Linked DNA regions of Homo sapiens. The protein of the gene in region 1 interacts with the protein of each later gene in a biochemical or structural test. Each region holds a gene or a part of one and is shown on either strand. Other genes may lie near its edges.

Region 1 (4,126 bases):
CCTCTTACAAGGTTCACGTCCTTCGTTAGGCCGAGGACCGTGGTACTACAAAAGAACATTTCGTTAGCTGAAGTCACTACGATTGGCGAGAAACATCCGTTACTTCAGAATACGTTAACTACAAAATATATTGAATTTCCATATGTATTAACCATATACATGTGTAACTATTACTAAATGTAGTTCAGTCATTACAAAATAAGACATTCTGGGAGCGGGCTACAAATATTCAAACCAGCTGAATTCCCCAGGTAAGGCCCCGTGTTATAAACAAACCACAAACATCAGACGTCAGACCGAGAGCTCAGTGACTGCAGGGTGCGTAGCCGGAAAAGCCAACAAGGCACTGGCACCGCAGAGTCGCTGGAGGGGTGGTGGGGGGCACTGCCGGCTCGGGGGGCCTTTGGAAGTCACCTCTAACTTCGATTCCCAGCCAACAGCGGCTGGAGTCCCACACGGACCTGGAGGGTGCCGAGCTCCCCTTCCCAGGGCCCTGGACCGCCCTCCCTGCATTCTTTGCTCCTTTGGGGAGCCCCGCCCTGCCCTCTTGGGACCCTGCACTTGGGCCACGGGGACCCAGCTCCAGCCACCGGGGGGTGCCAGGGCAGCAGGGCCAGCTCCAGCCCCAAGGCTTGAAACGAAACTGAGGAGGGCCAAGCTCGCTAGGATGGGGAGACTGGGTTGGGAGCCAGAGGTTGGAGGGCTGGGAGCACCGGGCTGTGTCCCCCAGGGCTTCCCATCTCTGTCCACTGTGCCTTCCTGCTGGGAGGTGACCGGCACCCAACTTCCCAGCCAGGCCACTTCCTGCAGTGGCTCAGGCAGCCCCAAGAGGCCTGGCCGGCCCAACCTTTGCAGAGGGCTCAGCGTCAGGACGGCTGCTGAGGCGCACAGCCTCCCCAGGACAGACCACACTCAGGTGGCCTCAGGACGAAGAATTCCAGACACAGGCTGCCCAGGGCCCTCTACCTGGCGCTAAGGGTCGGGGAAGCCCTGGAGGGCCACGGCTGTGGGCTCTCCCAGAAAAAGCACCTGGCGTTTGCCACGGGTGGTAGCAAGGCTGCCTCCTGAGGACACAAGGGACAGACACCTGAGGTGGCACCCTATGCACAGCGCAGCTCCATCCCTGTGACCTGGCCACTGAAGAGGGGAACCCCCGCCAGCAGGCTGCCCGGATAGGAGTCCTCAGGCAGCCCCCAGCCCTGGTCTGGACCTGGCCTTGTGGCCCCCAAGACAGCTGGCACCGGTGCAGTTGCCAGGGTCTCGATGCCAATCCCGACCTATGCAGATCTTAGCTGCCCAGCGCTCTACAGCCCGCAGATGCGGGGAGCACAGAAACCTCAGCAGCACTTTGTACACAGCCCTGTTTACAAAGATCCAGGGCAAGACAGAGCCTCACAGCCTGCGTGCATCCGAAGCAGATGGAGAGCCTGGTCCTGGCCCGCGGTGGGGCTGCAGGTGGGTGGGGAGGGCCGGGCACTGGGAGGCCGCCTCCTCTCACTTTCAATGATAATAATGCAACCAAAACCTTTATATAAACAGTTTATTTACTCTAAACAGCAACACAGACAAAACGCCATATAAACACAAAGGAAGTGGCGCAGAACCGAGATGCTGACCTGGGGTCTGAGGCTCAAAAGCAGCACAGCCCAGGTTCTAGAAGGTTCTAGAGAGGAGCGGCAGGAGGGAGGGTGCATTTCCATACAGCCAGCTGAGGCCAAGTGCAGCTCTGCACGGTGAGAAGCATGCCTGCATCCCAGAGCGAGGAACTCGCCCCTGGGGGACTTACCCAAGTATAAAAGTTTATAATTTTACAGCAGTTGAAATACTGACATCAATATTAAAATAAAAGCGAGTTTTACATAACAATCAAAAATACAAAAGACCGAAGGAAGAGACCCTGTATGGAAACGGGCAATTCAGCGAATCGAGACCGCACACCCGCGGCGGCAATGGAAGATGGCGCCCGCCCAACCCCCCCAGGTGACTAGTCATTGTATGGAGCAACTTTAGATTTGCAAAAATGTTGTAAACAAGTTCTTGCCAAACCAATCCCTTCCTTTTGACGATGCCACAAGGTCGCTGCTTATGAGGGCGCAAACTTCTTGGCTTGTGCTCGGACCCTTTTCTCGTACTCCACTCTGTTTTGGCTGAGGAGGTCAAAAGAGAAGAGACGTGTTAGAGGGCTGAGCTGCCTGGCCCTCACGCTCGCCCCGGAGCCAGCTGGGCAGACCAGGCTGCAGGATGGGACCTCCTGGGGGAGGGCAGTGTGGAGCTCGTCATAGTAACAGAAGCAGAAGCCCGGAGAAGCAGGGAGGCCTGCGTGGTGGGGAGCCCATGCTGGCTCTGACGTGGCTGAGACTGTCCCGTGGTCTGACGGGGGCAGAAGGGCAGGGAGGAGAGGAACCCACGCTGGGTGAACGTGGTGTTCAAGGGGGACAGAGGGGTCCCGCAGGGCTGCGAGGAGGGCTCAGGCCCAGAGGGCCCACGCCAGGGCCTGCAACATCGTTGCCGATGCCAAGTCTGGTCCTAACTAGTAATCAGCAGCTTCTCTTTTCTGTAGGTCTGGGGACAGTCCTAATAAACTGAAAACACTGACTGCTTGCCACTGTTTTTGTTAATTCCCAAAAATAGACACCAATTTCTGGAGGGTTTTTCCATGAGGCTCTCAGCCGCAGGGGCAAAGGTGTGGGAAGGCAGGCCTGGTTGAGAAGGCGTTGTGCCCGAGCTGGGCAGTGCAGGGGCATCAGCGAACAGGTCTGGAGCTGGGTAGAGTGAGGCTCAGCCTGCAAGCAGCTGCCCAGGAGAGTGGCATGGCACACACTGCCCGGGCAAAACAGGTGGGCGGGAGGGCGGCCGAGGCTGCACCTAGGGGCTGATGGGTCACAGGGTGCAGTGTGACCCTGAGGATGGGGGAACACCATGACATTTATGGAGGTGGCTCCTGGGGTCGCAGTCCTGCCAGTCTCGCCAGGATTGGACCTGGTCTGAGACACTGAGCCTCACTCTGCATGGTGGAACAGCCCAGGACGGCAGCAGCGCCGGTGCCACCCCCACCCACGCCAAGGGCCTGGACCGCAGCCCAGACCCCAGCGCCCTCCTTGGGCCACCAGCCGGCCCCAGGGCAGAGCAGCTCAGCTGGGTGGGCGTGGAAGGAACCAGAGGCGGTGGCTACACGTCCCAGCTCTTCCTTGACCAAGCAGAGGCCCCGAGAAAAGGCACCTGCCAGGGCAGGAACACGGTCCAAGGCCTCCAGGAAACCCAGGAAAAACGATCTGAAACCCGCACACATGCTTCACAAAGGGTGCTTTTCAAGCGGATGTGTGTAGGAGAAAGAACGTTTGTTTACGTGCACGCAAGTGTACAGTGCAGCCCAGCAGGCACCAAGCCCAGGAGACGCTGGGGAGAGTCACACGGGGCGGGGGACTGCAACCCTGCCCAGCCCACGCCGCAGATGGGAGCCACAGCCCAGCTCTGGAGATGGTCGGCAAATGGGGTGCAGGCCAGACAGAGCTCACGCCCACACCATGCTGGGGATGGCAGACCATCTAAGGGCTAGGCAGGAAAACATTTGCCTTTTGTTTTGTTTTTTTGAGACAGAGTCTGGCTCTGTTGCCCAGGCTGGAGTGCAGTGGCGTGATCTCGGCTCACTGTAAGCTCCGCCTCCCAGGTTCAAGCCATTCTCCTGCCTCAGCCTCCCGAGTAGCTGGGGTTACAGGTGTGCGCCACCACGCCCGGCTAATTTTTTTTATTTTTACTAGAGATGGGGTTTCACCGTGTTAGCCAGGATGGTCTCAATCTCCTGACCTCGTGATCTGCCCACCTTGGCCTCCCAAAGTGCTGGGATTACAGGCGTGAGCCACCGCGCCCGGCATGCTTTTTTTTTTTTTTTTGAGACAGGGTCTCACTTTGTCACCCAGGCTGCAATCTTGGCTCACTGCAGCATCAACCACCTGGGCTCAAGCAGTCCTCCCACCTCAGCCTCCCAAATAGCTGGGACTACAGGCATGCACCATCATCCCCGGCTTAATTTTTTTTTTTTTTTTTTTTTTAAAGAGAGCAGGTCTTGCCATGTGGCCCAGGCTGGTCTCCAACTCCTGGGCTCAGGTAACGTCCCACAGTGGCCTTG
Region 2 (3,500 bases), on another chromosome or scaffold:
TCCTTTGCCAAATAATGTTATCACTGGAAATATGAGATATGAGACCTCCTAGAAATTCCTCTGAGAGTCAAGCTTAGGTAGGATGACTTTGTGCTTTGTTTTGTCATTTCTGTAAAATAGCTTCCCTTAAAATGAAGAATATCTGACAATAAGTATAAGGAGTGAAGCAAAGTAGTGAATTCTGAGTTAGAAAAAATCAGTTATGTTTTATCTGTGTGATTGCCTTTTTTAGTATTAGTGTTCCACAATCAATTGAAGTATTTACTAAGATTGAGGGAAAGATGCATCGTATTACTTGCTTGGGTAAACCCTTCCCAAGAAGCTGTTGTCTTCTGTTTAATGCATGAGATGTTGAGTAAGCTGTGACTGGTTTGTTATGAGATAGGCCAAAAGTTTTCTTGTTTTCCTTCTTTGTTGTCTGCACTGTAGAGGTAACACACATTGTGGTATGTGTTCTATTAGAGTATGATTTAGAGCTACCACAGTGTGGTAGCTAGTGGCCACATGTGGCTCTTAAGCACTTGAAATGTGGTTAGTCCAAATTTAGATGTATTGTAAGTGTAAAATATACACCAGATATTGAAGACTTAGTATAAAAAAAATCCCACTGACACTTTAAAAAATGATTATTTTTAAATTACAAAAATTGATTGCATGTTGAGATGAAAAGATAGTTTTGATATATTGGGTTAAATAACTATGTTAATGTAAATTATCATTATTATTATTATTATTTTTGAGACAGTCTTAATATTGCCTAGGCTGGAATATGGTGGTGTGATCACAGTTCACTGTAGCCTCAAATTCCTGGGCTCAAGTGATCCTCTCGCCTCAGTCTCCTGAGTGGCTTGGACCACAGGCACACACACCACCATGGCTGGCTAATTTTTAAATTTTTGTGGAGACGGGGTGTTAGTATGTTGTCCAGTGTGGTCTCGAACTCCTGGGCTCAAGTGATCCTCTTGTGTTGGCCTCCAAAAGCACTGGGATTATAGGTGTGAGCCACTGTTCCTGGCCTAAATTAGTTTTTTTAATGTGACTACTAGGAGGTTTAATGTGTGTCTTCTATTAATTTGTGTTGGACAGCACTGAATTAGAGTATAAAATGGCTTGCCAGGATTACAATTTAATATTCTCTCACTTGTACATTATGAAATATAGAGACATATATAGTACACAAAGTACAGTTATGACAGTGTATATGGATTACTTTGGCATATTTAAATCTGTTTGCATTTTAGTAAACTAGCAAGTATTTATACCAACAAGTATTTAAAAACCATATAGGGTTTTAAACAGTTGCTTCTGGGCCGTCCCTGAGACTTAAAAAGTACAGAGCAACTGCCCCACATTTCCACTATACTGATGAGACAAGCAGGTTGAAAAGGAATCCCAAGTGACTGTGGAGTGTGTAGCACGGGCTGGGTTGGGGGAGTGATGAGGATGGGATGGGACACCAAACCACAGGTAGTTCTCCTGGGTAGGTTTCTGACAGGGCTTTGGTCAGCTCCAGGTGTTCTTCCTCTTTCTTGCTAGATGATGCATGTGTGGTATCTGACCCAAGTGTGATTTGCCTCTGAGTTCAGAATTGACTGGAAATCACTAAGTAGGTGGATTCCTGAGGCTGCAAGGGGTTAAAAATATTCATTAAGTTTTGCTGAAAAAATAGAAGGTGTGATGTGAAGCTGCAACTGCTTATAACCTTTGTTTTACGCCCAAGCACAAGCCAGTAGAGTAGTGTGGAGGAAATGTTGCCCTTTAAGATTGATGACTGCTCATTTCCTTGCTCTTCAAAGGTCTTTTTCTCATTTGGATACCCAGCTGGGAATTTCAGTTGTTTTAGAAGTTTGACTGCTAAATAAGATGTATGTGATTTTTTAGCTTTAATATTTTAAAATATCTTTATTATGTTGTTTGTTTGTTAATGTTTGAATTGGGGTAAAAAATTCATTGCATTTTGGATCACAGTTCTGACTTGATTTTTATGGATTTACTACTCAGCATCAAAAGTTACACATCTAACATTGTGAAAATCTGATTTTTTGTTTGGTTAATTGGCGATAATTCTGTAACAAACATTACATTGTATATTGGGAGGGGTTGGTTTTGAAAAGGAGTATATTCATTGGTGATAGATTTTATAGTCATAAAGCAAATAACTGTTTGCATTAGAGCATAATCAGATAATGAAGTGGTTAGTAGAAACCAATAGACTATAGATTACCAAAATTAAGATCTTGTACAACAAAATATAATTAACACCGTAACTTGAATGTAATTTTTACGGGATTGTCTTATGAATGGTAATGATTCTAAGTGGTATGTGAAATGCTGTTACTAGCACATGCCAATTGATAGAATGCTGGAAAAATCACATTTTACATTATATTTTAGATAGGATTTTTGTATGCTTGAGGGTGACTTGGCTTATGTTTTTTTTTCTTTCCTTTTAGAATATGGTTTCTAGTTTTAGGGTTTCTGAACTACAAGTATTACTAGGCTTTGCTGGACGGAATAAAAGTGGACGCAAGCATGACCTCCTGATGAGGGCGCTGCATTTATTGAAGAGCGGCTGCAGCCCTGCGGTTCAGATTAAAATCCGAGAATTGTATAGACGCCGATATCCACGAACTCTTGAAGGACTTTCTGATTTATCCACAATCAAATCATCGGTTTTCAGTTTGGATGGTGGCTCATCACCTGTAGAACCTGACTTGGCCGTGGCTGGAATCCACTCGTTGCCTTCCACTTCAGTTACACCTCACTCACCATCCTCTCCTGTTGGTTCTGTGCTGCTTCAAGATACTAAGCCCACATTTGAGATGCAGCAGCCATCTCCCCCAATTCCTCCTGTCCATCCTGATGTGCAGTTAAAAAATCTGCCCTTTTATGATGTCCTTGATGTTCTCATCAAGCCCACGAGTTTAGGTAAGTGTTTGAGAATTCAGTTTCTTCTGAACAAGATAGTAAATGAAATGAGAGACCTTCAACTATTGATTAATGATGTGCTGTTAATATAGTGAAATTGAGGCATCAATGCCGAATGTTTGAATATACGGATAAAAATTCGGCAACCATGACTGAAATCTAATAGAAGCTTTATTTCATATCATTTGATCTTTCTTCTTCTCCAATTCTTTTATTGTAAAATACACATAATATAAAATGTATCATCTTGATCATTTTAAAGTGTACAGTTGAGTGGTGTTAAGTATGTTGGTAATGTTGTGCAGCCATCACTGCCATCCATCTCCAGAACTCTTTTCATCTTCTGAAGCTGAAACTCTGTACCCATTAAACAATAGCCTTCCTCTCCTCCTCTCCCACTAGCCCCTGGCAGTTACCATTCTACTTCCACTGTCTATGATTTTGACTATTCCAAGTACCTCATGTCGTTGGAATCATACAGTATTTGTCTTGTGACTGGCTTATTTCACTAAATGTAATGTCCTCAAGGTTCTAGCATGCTGTAGTTTATGTTAGAATTTCTTTCCTTTTAA
Region 3 (3,500 bases), on another chromosome or scaffold:
CAGCCTCTCTGTCACTGGATTTCTTTCTTGCTGCACCTAGGAAGTCCTCACCTTTGCCTCACTTGAACCCTTCCTGCTGCGCACGTCTCTCCATACACAAAGGAGGGAGAGTTTGCTTTAAAATCAGATGGGCACCTGCATCCCCTCCTAGCTGCCCCTTTGCCAGGCTTGAGGGTCCACCCGGGCACCGGGTAGCCAGAGCTGGGATCCAAGGATGGAAACTCAGCTGAGGAGTGAGCGGCTGGGGCAGCCTTGGCTCAAGCAGGGGAGCTGCTGGGAGCCAGCACGTGGCTGCCACCACGTCCCCACGGGAGAAGGAAGAGCCCACTGCTCCACACCCCGGCTGGGGGTCTGGGTGGGGGTCAGGAAGGAGGAAGTGGCTCCCAAGCGGGCAGAGATAAGTGGTGTTTCAGGCCAATAAGGGGTGGTAGGGGCATTTCCAGGCGGAGGAACGTCAGGACAGCTGGGGGGAGTGGGGGGGCAGGCTGGCACCATCACTCTGGACCCCAAGTCACTTGGGCAGGTGGCTTCCTGGAGGAAGCAACACTGGTCCACCAGGCAGCTGAGGGCCAGGTGGTGGATGGAGAGGCCCTGTGGGTTGTGGGCCAGGGTGGCCTGCCCCCCATGGCCCAGGGCTGGGGTCTCTCCTGAGCTACCCATGGATGGAGTTTACCCTGGGATGGAGCCACATCCCAGAAGCCTCAGGAGGGCAGCCAGGGTCCCTGCGTGAGTTTCCTTCTGGCTGTGGGCCTGCTGCCCGTCGAGGGGAGGGCGGCGCCTGCCTCCAAGACTTCATGTTTCACATATGTTTCCCCATGTTCCGTGCAGCTTGCTGGCGGGCACCGTCTTTTCCTTTAAAGAAGCAGCTACACTCCTGTCTGCAGGCTGCCTTGGGGCGGTGCTGGGGCTGGGCGGCAGCCGCTTGCTGGCTCACAGCCAGGAAGCCCCAGGATCCGTCTCCCAAAGAGTCCCTGCCTCATTCCCCGCTGTGGCCTTGGGGATGGTGCTTCGGTGACAGAATGAAGTCACAGCAATGACTCTTTCGGTGGCTGTGTTGCATGAAACTTGCCAGAAAAGTCCCATGGGTCATAGTCCACGCAGGGTGGGGGAGGCCACATAGGCCACCTCCGTGTGGGGGCTTCGGCTGGGTCTGTGCTGTGCCCAGGTTGTGGTCAAATCTAATGGTGGTTGCCACCCGGCTTTCTCCAATCCCTCACGGCCCCGAGCCACACAGCGAAGCTTGGGACTCATCGTCAGGGGCCTGTTCTGGGAGGTGGACGTCAGTGCCGGAGAGAACTCGAATCACAGCCCCGCGCCCTGCTGTTCCCACCCTCCTGACGGTGTCTTCCGTTCCCTCCCCACAGTCAAGGAGAAGCTGCGCCTTGATCCTGACAGCGAGATCGCCACCACCGGTGTGCGGGTGTCCCTCATCTGTCCGGTGAGTCGGGGCGCGGTCCCCTCCTCGAGGCCTCTCCTGCGGCCGGCCTTCCCCCCTGGCGGCCCTGGGCCCGGGGCGGCTTGGCTGGGCCGTGAGCCTGCGGGGGCGAGGCTGGTCTTCGTCCCCTCCGTGTTCCTGAGGCATGAGTGATTGGAGCGAGCCACAGGATGGAGCTGGGGGTGAGGGGCACCGGGCAGGCGGGCACAACAGGAGGGGTGCCCTGCTCACGCAGCCCCTCCCCCACAGCTGGTGAAGATGCGGCTCTCCGTGCCCTGCCGGGCAGAGACCTGTGCCCACCTGCAGTGCTTCGACGCCGTCTTCTACCTGCAGATGAACGAGAAGAAGCCCACCTGGATGTGCCCCGTGTGCGACAAGCCAGCCCCCTACGACCAGCTCATCATCGACGGGTGAGCCCGGGGCCCCGGGGAGGGCGGCCGGAGCCGGACATCCGTGGAGGTCTCGGTGGCACCCCGCTTCCTGCAGACCACATGGTGCCCCAGCAAGACACAGCAGTGGGGGCACATGGTCCTGGAGCTTTGGAAACCCCGGGCTGCGAAAAGAGCCGGTTTCTTTCTCGCGGAACTTCTCAGAGCCTTTGCTATGCAGGTGACAGCCACGTAGCTTAGGTTGCAGAAGGTGGGCTCCGGTCCACCCCGCTCCCACGTGACCTCAGGCAAGTGTGACCCTGAGCTCCAGGAGTGTGGTTTGTGCCACAAAAAACTGAGCCAGGTCGTGCTTTCACACGGCGTTCACCCCAGGACGCGCAGCCTTGGGGGTGACCTCCTCACAGAAAGGCAAAGGAGGTGGCGCCTCCTGGAGCACTCTGGCTACGCCATGCCCTTCCCTTCCTAGGTGGCACAGCTGTGGCCAGGCATTCCCCAGGCCACAGGGGACAGGAGGACAAGACCTTTCTCCCTGGTGGAAGGCTCTGCCCAGGGCTTAAGTTTCCAGAAACTGAGCCCCGTTGTCTGTGGTGCCTGATGCGGCTCCTGCCCGGCGCCGACCGCGCCCACCTCGTCCCCAGAGCCGCCGGCAGGGCGCGAGGCCACAGCGGCACAAGCTGGCGCCCTCACAGGCGGGAGCAGGCCCTGCCTGTGGGGGTGGGCCGGGTCCCCAGCCCTCAGGCATGGCCTCAGCGGACTGTGCAGGTGAAGGCAGGGCTGGCCTGCCTCTGGGGTTGTAGATTTCATCCCCAGGTGGACCTCCGGTTCATGCACTTGTCCCCATCCCAGGAGACAGACCTGTGAGCGTCCTCAGTTTACAGACGAGGAAACAGGCTCAGAGGAGGCAACCAGCAGCTGGAGCTACCCCGGCTCACGGGGCCAGGCTGAGACTTGAACCCAGCCTGAGTCTGGGTCCCCTCTGTGGAGGGCTGGGTGGCCACCCCCTTGCATCCCAGCTTCGGGTAGAGAGAGGAGTCCTTTGGGCCGGGCACGTGGGCTGCCTGAATGGCTGCTCTGTTCCCAGCCTGACAGCTGTGCAGCCGGGTGCCCGCCTTCCCCCACAGGCCCGGAGTGGGGCTTGGGCTTGGGGTGGCGGCAGCTCTCACAGCTCCAGGGCCACCAGGGCTGGGGCAGGCAGCTGTGTCCCATGCAGGCCTTGGCCTCAGCAGCCCATGGGACTCGGTGTAGCCAGGGAGGCTTCCTGGAGGAGGGGTCCTTGGTTCATACTTTGTTCCATGAGCCCTATCACCTCTCTGTCCCTGGCTCTGAGCTGGGTGACCCCAGGGTCCCCAAAAGAGCCCCGTCCCAGACCCTGCCTTCAGAGTCTTGTTCTTGGCCAGGGGAGCGGATAGAGGAGCAGAGCCAGACATAAACGTTCCCGTTGCTGTGTGTGTCTTGGGGAGGAGGAAGAGAAGCTGTGGGGTGGGGCTTTGGAGGGTGAAAAGCAGTTTTGCAAGCAGGGAAGTGGGCAGGCAGGGCTGTGCTACGCCTGGGGCGGCCCTGGCACGGTGGGCTCCGAGCATCGCCTCAGAGAGAGCTCGGCGGGGCGGAGGGGCTGGCCTGGGTGAGAGCCTCAGAAAGGGTGGCCCAGAGTGGGACGAGGGCTCTCCTGTGTGATG
Region 4 (3,500 bases), on another chromosome or scaffold:
GGGATTACAGACATGAGCCACCATACCTGGCCCATTTGTGGTTTTCTACTGGGGAAGTTGAGTTAAAATGTTTCCCTTCCTTCCTGTTTCTCTATTTTTCTGTTCTTATTTAATTATTTATGTATTTACATTTAGAATTTATATAAAATGATATGTAGATACTTTGTATCCTTGAGGAGGTTAAGATGCCAAGTAATACTGTGTCGAAAATAATAGTCTATGATTATTCTTCCCACGAACAGCTAGCAGGGGAAGGAGAGTGGCATGGGGGGTTGCACGAACCCAGTTCTAGGGAGAAAGAAAGGGAAGATATTGCAGAGGAGACTCATGTTGGGACTGTAAGAGCTTAATTTTGGGGAGACAGGTACAAAAGGTGCTAGTTGGGTAACTTTTCTGGGAAAGCTGCTAAAGTTTCTAAGTTAAGATTTTCTGCATTTCTGGAAATTATTTGTATTTCAGAGGCTCCAAAAGGAAGAAAAAGAAAACCCAGAACAACAGAACCAAAACAACCAGTGGAACCCAAAAAACCTGTTGAGTCAAAAAAATCTGGCAAGTCTGCAAAATCAAAAGAAAAACAAGAAAAAATTACAGACACATTTAAAGTAAAAAGAAAAGTAGACCGTTTTAATGGTGTTTCAGAAGCTGAACTTCTGACCAAGACTCTCCCCGATATTTTGACCTTCAATCTGGACATTGTCATTGTAAGATCTTTGTCCTCGTTGGATTTTATAAGTAGTATTGGGGGATCAGCTTTACTTAACAGTTGTCCTTGCAAATAGCATTTTGCTGAAAAGGACCATTTCTAAGAATCCTTTTGGTGGTAAATGGTGTCAGCTTCATGAGGTTGTGTTATATGAGAGTGTTTAAGAGGGTGGGCTCCAAATTTAGACTGTCTGGGTTCAAATCCTGTCACAAGTATAATCTTGGATAAGTCTTATTAACCTTTCTAAACACCGGTTTTCTCATTGATAAACCAGGGGTGATAATACCACCCCCCGATAGGGTTGCAAGTAAATGAGAGAATCCATGTGAATCACTTCAACTGAATGATGCCTGTGGAGACCTGATACATGGCAGCACTAATTTTAAGCTCTTATTTTTCTCAGTAACTGTAAGAAACATCAGCATGTGAACAATTGTGTAGGTGATGTGGAGCGAGCTTCTTGTTGAAAGTTGAGAATCAGAATTGTGGCTGGACATGGGCTCAGATTGATTGTTCCAGGACCTGTCTTTCCAGACTCAAAGCAGCCCAGTTGGTGAGGGTGCGAGGCCTGGGATCATAAAGGAGTCAAACTGGTTTTTTAAAATAACAGCAAAACTTTTAAAATAAAGAAAATCTCTTTCCCATATATGAAATACTTTGTTCAGATCAAGAGTAGTAATTGATAAATGATATTGCTTATGATGCTGAATTAAATTTGTATTTTAATCAACTCAATTTTGTCCACCACTCCTCCATAGAAACGCTAAGGCTTAGGTCCTGCTTTTTAAGATGAAATGTCTAATTGTTTTGTTTTATAGATTGGCATAAACCCGGGACTAATGGCTGCTTACAAAGGGCATCATTACCCTGGACCTGGAAACCATTTTTGTAAGTGGTTACCTTTTAAATTAATTTACTTTTAAATTAGGTATCTTTGTTAACAGGTTTTTTCAGAAAAACCAATTGTGTTTTTAAAAAGAAAGAGACTGTAAATACACATTCGTGTTTCATGTTCTGTGTGTGTGTCTGTACGTGAAAATAAGAGAGTTTGAAATGATATGTTACTGTTAACATTTTAGTCTATGAGAATGGAGGGATGTGAATAAGAGTACTTTCTCTTTTGTTTGAATTGTTTCTAATGAGTTGTACTACTTTTTTTTTTTTTTTTTTTTTTTTTTGAGATGGAGTTTCGCTCTTTTTGCGCAGACTGGAGTGCAATGGCGCGATCTCGGCTCACCACAATCTCCACCTCCCAGGTTCAAGTGATTCTCCTGCCTCAGCCTCCCTAGTAGCTGGGATTACAGGCATGTACCACCACGCCTGGTTAATTTTGTATTTTTAGTAGAGACGGGGTGTCTCCATGTTGGTCAGGCTGGTCTCGAACTCCCGGCCTCAGGTGATCTGCCCACCTCAGCCTCCCAAAGTGCTGGGATTACAGGCGTGAGCTACAACGCCCAGCCAAGTTGTATTACTTTTTAAAAATGATTTTTTAAAAGTTGTTATCTATAGGCATAGTAACGATAGTATAGTACATCTTTGTGGCAGTGCAGACATAATACTAACTTTCCCAGATTTCTGGTGATTATTTTCTAGCAGAGCATAAAATAGTAGTAAAGACTCATATTTTTAGAGTAAGTTTTAAAACCAAGTGTTGGCTGGATCTGGTGGCTCACACCTGTAATCCCAACACTTTGGGAGGCCAAAGCAGGAGGATCACTTGAGGCCAGGAGTTTGAGACTAGCCTGTACAACATACCAAGATCTCATTTCTACAAAAAAATAAATAAAAAATTAGCTGAGTGCTGTGGTGCACACCTGTAGTTCCAGCTACTACGGAGGCTGGGTTGGGAAAATTGCTTGAGCCTGAGAGGTTGAGGCTGCAGTTAGCCATAATTACTCCACTGCACTCCAGCCTAGGTGACAGAACTAGACCCTGTATCACAAAAACAAACAAGAAAACAAACAAAAAACAAGCGTAACTACTGTTGCATTGCCTTCTCTATATAAGTTGTCTTGTATATAAATCATCTTATTTTATACTGCCTAATAGATCAGTGTATGCAGTATACGCTCAGGAAATTGATTATCTAATAGTAACATTCAAAACATTTAGGGCAACTGATAGTAATGTGGTTTTGGAACTAATAATAACATATTGTCCCTATTATTTTAAAAAATTCCTTTTTAAGGGAAGTTTGGACTTTTGACTTTCTTCACTGTCAAGGTGTTTGAATGTTGTTAGTCTAGTGCTGTATGTTTACGTGTGAGGTGGTGGTATCACCAATTGTAAAGCAAAATAGTCTCAAAGTTTCCTAAACTGAGTTGCTATATATTCTTGGGCAGGCATTTGCCTCAACCCCCTGTGAAAAGGAGATAATAATAGTATCTTGCAAGATAATTATGATGATTAAATCCAAGCGCTGTGGCTCACACCTGTAATCCCAGCAATTTTGGAGGCTGAGGTGGGAAGATCACTTGAGCCCAGGAATTCAAGACCAGCCTGGGCAACATGGTGAAACCCTGTCTACAAACAATACAAAAATTAGCTGGGCGTGGTGGTGTGCATCTGGGGTTCCAGCCACTCAGGAGGCTGAAGTGGGAGGATTGCTTGAGCCTCGGTGGTCGAGGCTGCACTGAGCCATGATCGTGCCACTACACTCTAGCCTGGGTGACAGAGCGAGACCCTGTCTAAAAAAAAATAAATAACTGAATTTTCATTTTACAGGGAAGTGTTTGTTTATGTCAGGGCTCAGTGAGGTCCAGCTGAACCATATGGATGATCACACTCTACCAGGGAA

What was found. The genes of interacting proteins can lie anywhere in the genome.
Region 2: the proteins of UBE2I (region 1) and PIAS2 form a complex in vitro, tested with the Homo sapiens proteins (3 studies listed by BioGRID).
Region 3: the proteins of UBE2I (region 1) and PIAS4 form a complex in vitro, tested with the Homo sapiens proteins (4 studies listed by BioGRID).
Region 4: of the proteins of UBE2I (region 1) and TDG, one has a biochemical effect on the other in vitro, tested with the Homo sapiens proteins (3 studies listed by BioGRID).

Annotation. Positions count from the first base shown.
Region 1 is NC_000016.10:1,322,751-1,326,876, reverse strand, and holds part of UBE2I (SUMO-conjugating enzyme UBC9), read right to left. Parts: exon of another isoform or gene 2,148-4,126; coding exon 2,084-2,147; 3' UTR 1-2,083. UniProt on the Homo sapiens protein: Accepts the ubiquitin-like proteins SUMO1, SUMO2, SUMO3, SUMO4 and SUMO1P1/SUMO5 from the UBLE1A-UBLE1B E1 complex and catalyzes their covalent attachment to other proteins with the help of an E3 ligase such as RANBP2, CBX4 and ZNF451.
Region 2 is NC_000018.10:46,890,008-46,893,507, reverse strand, and holds part of PIAS2 (E3 SUMO-protein ligase PIAS2), read left to right. Parts: exon of another isoform or gene 1-77; intron 78-2,453; coding exon 2,454-2,928; intron 2,929-3,500. UniProt on the Homo sapiens protein: Functions as an E3-type small ubiquitin-like modifier (SUMO) ligase, stabilizing the interaction between UBE2I and the substrate, and as a SUMO-tethering factor.
Region 3 is NC_000019.10:4,031,736-4,035,235, forward strand, and holds part of PIAS4 (E3 SUMO-protein ligase PIAS4), read left to right. Parts: intron 1-1,364; coding exon 1,365-1,438; intron 1,439-1,684; coding exon 1,685-1,845; intron 1,846-3,500.
Region 4 is NC_000012.12:103,979,372-103,982,871, forward strand, and holds part of TDG (G/T mismatch-specific thymine DNA glycosylase), read left to right. Parts: intron 1-459; coding exon 460-701; intron 702-783; exon of another isoform or gene 784-1,256; intron 1,257-1,521; coding exon 1,522-1,591; intron 1,592-3,427; coding exon 3,428-3,500. UniProt on the Homo sapiens protein: DNA glycosylase that plays a key role in active DNA demethylation: specifically recognizes and binds 5-formylcytosine (5fC) and 5-carboxylcytosine (5caC) in the context of CpG sites and mediates their excision through base-excision repair (BER) to install an unmethylated cytosine.